2 separate regions of the Homo sapiens genome follow, and region 2 is linked to region 1. A link means that fine-mapping ties the variant in region 1 to the expression of a gene that starts in the linked region. Tissue or cell type: nucleus accumbens. Region 1 holds a variant in brackets; the other region holds the start of a gene. All regions are shown on one strand. Distances are between the middles of the regions.

Evidence for each region. PIP is the estimated chance that this variant, and not a neighbour inherited with it, causes the effect.
Region 2: it holds the start of MGMT, and the variant in region 1 is fine-mapped to the expression of MGMT in nucleus accumbens (GTEx, PIP 0.92).

What each region holds. Positions count from the first base shown.
Region 1 is chr10:129,783,836-129,786,675 of GRCh38, reverse strand. It overlaps LOC107984281 (a long non-coding RNA gene), which reads right to left. Exons shown (of 11, transcript NR_186705.1): 2 at 1,370-1,727. Among named protein-coding and RNA genes, the nearest start is that of MIR4297, 58 kb to the left of the region's middle. The variant G/C (reference allele first, on the strand shown) is at 1,402.
Region 2 is chr10:129,465,677-129,468,346 of GRCh38, reverse strand. It overlaps MGMT (O-6-methylguanine-DNA methyltransferase), which reads right to left and starts at 1,106. Exons shown (of 5, transcript NM_002412.5): 1 at 1,051-1,106. RefSeq lists silencers at 807-1,006, 1,027-1,466 and an enhancer at 318-1,240.

The DNA.
Region 1 (2,840 bases):
CAACATGTTGGCCAGGCTGGTCTCAAACTCCTGACCTCGGATGATCCACCTGTCTCAGCCTCCCAAAGTGCTGCGATTACGGGCATGAGCCACCGTGTCAGGCCCCCAAATTCTTTTTTTTTTTTTTTAATAACTTAAAACAGTTCTTTTCAGAAATGCTTTTCTCCAGCTGGTTTGTCAGAACCACATTCCTGCAAGGTTGGGCCAGAATGCTGTGCCCCGAGCAGCTCCATCTACTCTGCCAACAGCAGCCCTCCAGCCTCTGCGGGAAGCACGCCTCCCCACGCCAACACCCTGTAGACTCCTGGCCCCGTGGACTGTCAGGCAGTTATTTTGGCCTGGGACGTGGCTCTGCTAACTGGCTGCTGTGTTTTTCCAGTTGTGAGAAGAGCTTCCAGGGGAGTTCTTCAGATAATCATCATCTTGATCTTAAATGTAAATATTGTCACCGTGGTTTAAAGAGAGATTAATGATTTGCCGACAGCTCCATACATCCTTAGGAAGTGAACACTTGATTGTCTATCTTATTTCCAATAATACTAGAGGAAAAGGCACACCCTACAGGTGGCTGCAGGTGCCACCGGAGCTTGGAGCGAGTGAAGGCCGAGCCTCGGACTCGGGTATCATTTCTGAATAGCTCGCCAACTGTGAAGGAAGTTCTGCGGTTCTCTGTCACGGAGGAAAACAGCAGTGAGTGCCATCCGCCAGGCTGTGTGCCAGGTGTCCCGTAATCCCGTCTTTACCTTCTGGAGGAGCTGCGAGGCGGCGTCATTAGCTCCGTTTCAGAGAAGAGAAGGCGGAGGGCAAAGCAGGTTTGCTGAGGCATGGCCAGTCATGGGCAGTGTCCAGAGCCAAACCCGGGGCTTGCCACATCCGGCTCCCCTGACCTCGGCCACCACCAGTCTGTGGAAGCCCAGGCACTCCCAGGGGGAAGCTCCAGCCCTCAGGCCATGTCAGCACCTCCCTGTGGCTCCGACGGGCTCTGAGCCCATGGTCCCCTGACCTGGCTGCCCCTGCCTCAAGGTGCCGGGGTAGCAAGGCAGATGGCCCCTGGATAGTTCCCTTTTTGTTGTCCCCACGTGGCCTACAGCTGGCTAAGCAGGGCAGGGTGTGTGGCCGGCAGCCCTGGGGCTTCAGAACAGGTGTCTCAATTATGCCACCGCCTCCAAGACCCATCCCTCCTGATGCAGCCAGGCCCGCGGCTCTACCAGGGACACTGTGCGAGCATCAATGCCGGGAGGACTGGGACATTACACTCTACATCTGAATTTCTTATATTTTCCAAGTGTTCTACACTAATTAGTTAGTTCTGTTAGCTCTAAGGATTAGTAGCTTCTCTAACAAGACACAGCGACATTAAGTGACTTACCTAATTATGTAAAACACGGGGACACTAGACGA[G/C]AAGGCAAGCTTTCCTCGAGCTGGGCTCAGGCCTGCTCCGCCCCACTGCAGCGCCCATCCGTCTTCTTTCTCTGGGTCCCCAGGGCACAGGAAACAGGAACCGCAGGTCTGGCCTCAGAGACTACTCCACACGGAGTGTTGCCACACCTACGTCCTCGGGCCTGCCCTCCTTACGGCCTGCCTCCTTGGCCAGGACCACAGGGCCTCTCAGATGCTTCCTGGACAGAGGAGCTGACTTGAAAGAGAGCCTGTCCCAGGGCAGTAGGTGCTGGGCAGGCCTGGAGGCTCCATCACATGTGGCCGGGGTGCTGGGCCCACTGTGTCCCCTGTGAAAGAGAGTAGATGACCACCACGTCCTGCTGTCCTCTGACTGGTCACCATCTGAAATGTCACTAAGAACTGGCCCCACATTGCCTGTGCTCATGGCAAAGGGGTCTGCCCTCTCCCAGCCTGGCCCTCCAGTCCCCAAGTCTCATCTTGTAGGGACCGTGGCACCTGGGCCCTCCTCTCCTCTTCCCTGGAGTCCAGTTGCTTCTTTTACTCAAGATGCCCTCTATGTCCTGCCCAGCTCCAGCTGATGCAGTTTGATTGCCACCTCCTTCAGGACGCCCCTCTTCATTTTCTAGTTCACCCTTTCCCCTCCCTCTGAGACCTCACAGCCCTGAAGTGATACTGCATTTATGTTGATGTGCTATCTGATGACAGGCTGGGCATGACCTCACCTGGAGTATTTGTGCTCAGCTGCCCTGCAAGTGGAGAGGCGAAGCTGATAAACAGCTGGTCAAGCACGTGACACCAGTCACGTGGTCAGATGCGTGGGCCCATGCTGTCTTCTTAGTACATGTGTCAGGGTCCTTCCTCTTCACCCAGTAAGTGTGTTCTTTTATGATTACAAACATAATGCATTTCCATGGCAAAAATTGAGAATGTACAGTTAAGCACACAAAAAATGAAGTGATTTCCTCGTGCTGAGATAATCACTGAAGCACCTTGCTCTGCAGATGGTCTTTTTAAAAAATGTTACAACATGGCCATATATATAGTTTTAAAACACAATCATGGATCATATTTTCAAAGTGATAACAACTATTTCTTTCTTAGAAAATAAAGACATTTTTATAAGAGTTGAATAACTCTGAAAAGCAACACAACACACACACAGACACACTCACTCACAGACACACAAAGCAATTCTTCCCAACTCACTCACACACAGGCCCACACACCAAAGCGACTCTGCACAACTCACTCACACACAGGCCCACACACCAAAGTAATTCTCCCCAACTCACTCACACATAGGCACACAACCAAAGCAGCTCTCTCCAACTGTCCAACTTCCACTAAGATGTCTTCCTGCAAATAATCTGATGATCTCTCTTCCACAATTTTATGTCTGTAAGCACAATTTAAAAATTTAGTTTAATAAAACACCACTG
Region 2 (2,670 bases), 320 kb after region 1:
AGGCTCTTGACGCGGTTTCCTTCAAAGTTTTCACACCCCCACCCACCAGGTGCGCTAAGCTTTGGGTTTTTAAAATCTTGTTCATCTCCCAGAGTGTTTTAGCCATTGAGAGGGCCCTGAAAATAACAAAACCATCTCCTAGACACCTGCCCAGGGATGGGGGAGATGACGGGAGAGCCTGACTTAACAGATACTCTATAGGTTTCTATTTGGATGTCTATGTAAATAACCAGTCTAATTCTCAGCTCTCTGTGCTTAACATTCTACTGAGAACAGCTCTCTGGACCAAGCCGCTTCCCTGTCTGATGATGATCTCAGCAGGCATAGGTTGCACACACATGTACAAAGTCTGCTTTCCAGGACAGAAAGCCAGCTACTCAGCTGAAGCAACTGAGAGCAAACACCACCCTGAGATTTCAGGAGATGATGAACCCAGGAGTGCGAAATACATAGTTCAGAACTCCTCTGCGGTGTTATAACCGACATTACGGTGCCCAGTGTGTGTGGCTCTCCAGCGAGCCTTGCTTACTCTAAGTGTTGATGAATACAGTTAGGGTATGATGTACACAAACACCAGCCATAGTAACCAGAAGGCCCCTAGAACTTGGCCTCCAGCAGGAAGGAAATATGGGACTCTGCCTAAGTATGCTAAAGGGTTGCTGCAAGCCAAGGCCCGCGCAGGGGCTTCTGGAAGCTTCCTGGAGCAGCTGGCGGAGGGAAAGCTGGCAGCATGGAAGGGTAGGAAGAACCCGGGGCCCGGGCCTGGGGCTGGCACCTAGAGGTAAGGCAGGGGCTGCCACGACCCCCGCCACACGCCAGTCCACAGTCACTGCAGCGCAGCCTAGTCCAGGAACCCCAGGCCCGGGGAAAGGCTGGGCAACACCTGGGAGGCACTTGGGGCGCACCTGGAGCTCGCCCGGGATGGGTGGGGGTCAGGGCGGCCCCACACCCGACGGCGAAGTGAGGGCGCCTGCAGGACCACTCGAGGCTGCCACCGTCCCGAGGGAGAGCTCCGCACTCTTCCGGGAGCGAGGCGACCCAGACACTCACCAAGTCGCAAACGGTGCGCACCGCGAGGACCTGCGGGCGTCGGGACGCAAAGCGTTCTAGGGGCGCGGGCTGTCCCAGCATATCCGGGGCGCGGGGGCGGGGCCGAGGGGCACGGGGATGGCGGCGTGGGGCGGGGTCTAGAGCGGGGCGGAGCCGAGGACCTGAGAAAAGCAAGAGAGCGCGCGGGGGCGGGGCCGGGGCGCGCGGGGGCGGAGCTGGGGCGGAGCCCGGGAGGGGCGGGGTGTTCCCGCCCGACCGGGTCGGCGCATGCCCTGTGCGGCGGCGCCGGGCCTGAGGCAGTCTGCGCATCCTCGCTGGACGCCGGCACGCCGGCCCTGGTCCTCCGGCAGCGCCGCTGCCCTGTGCGCCTGACCCGGATGGCCCTTCGGCCGGTACAAGCCGGGCGGCGCCTTCCCAGCTTCCGCCTGAGGCTCTGTGCCTTAGTTTGCCAAATGGCCCGTACCTTTTCCTGTCACAGGGATAGTCCGCGGGCGTGCAAGCGACCTGCCACGTGCCCGAGTGGTCCTGAAAGCGCGCGGGGGTCGTAGGACGGCGCCCGCTTAGTGAGAATCCCGGTCCTGCTCGGGGCGGCTACGCTGAGCCCGGAGCGCGAGTCTCTCCCCTCCTGGTGCCGCTCCCCTAGTCAGGGACCCCCAGACCAGCAGAGACCCTGTCAGGGGGCCGTGGGGGCAGCCTCCAGGGCCTGTGGTGGGCGATGCCGTCCAGGGGCTGCAGTCACCGATGGCCTAGACACTGCCAGAGCCTGACTCAGCCGCTCTCCAGAGAGCACACAGGGTGCCAGGCCCTGCTTGGGGTTGTGTGGACGTTATTAGGAGTTGAATTGTGTCCACCAGAGAAGCTATGTTGGAGTCCTAACTCCCAGTACCTCACAATGTGACCTTATTTGGAGATGGGGACTTTACAGAAGCCATCAATTAGTGGGCCCCTCATCCAGTATGACTCGTGTCCTTATAGGCAGAAGGCCGCTTGGGGAGGAGGATTGGAGGGCTGCACCTGCAAGCCACCAGAAGCCTAAGAGGACAGACCCTTCCCTGGAGCCTTCGGAGGGAGCAGAGGACACTCTTCCCTGGAGCCTTCAGAGGGAGCAGGATCCTAACACACCTGGGTTTCAAACTTCTGGCCCCCGGAAGTGTGAGACAATAGGTTTCTGTTGTTTTAAGCCACTCAGTGTGTGGCACTTTATTATGGCAGCCCCAGGCAATGGGTACAGAAACCATTGTCTCTAACGTGGTTGGCATAAGCACCCCAGGGAGTAGTATCATCCCTGGAGGCTTCGGAGAGGTCACACACCCCTTGGCAGGATCCCATCCAAGGCCCACATGTTCTAAGCCACCATGCTACGGGCCTTCTAGGTTCTGTTTGTTATCTTAATGGAAAGGGGTCTTCACCTTCCCGGTGAAGTTTCCCTGTTGGGATTCGGCCAATGCTCATACCTTCGTATTTGTGACTTGCAGGATCCAACATATTAGCATGAGTGATAAGGGTTGTTCAGAGGAGAACTTCAGCAGGATTTGCTTTGGGATGAGCCCTGGTGACAATACAGGCTGCATCATTGATCCTCTGAGGTTCCCCACCCCGACCCTGCCTTGGATGAGACAT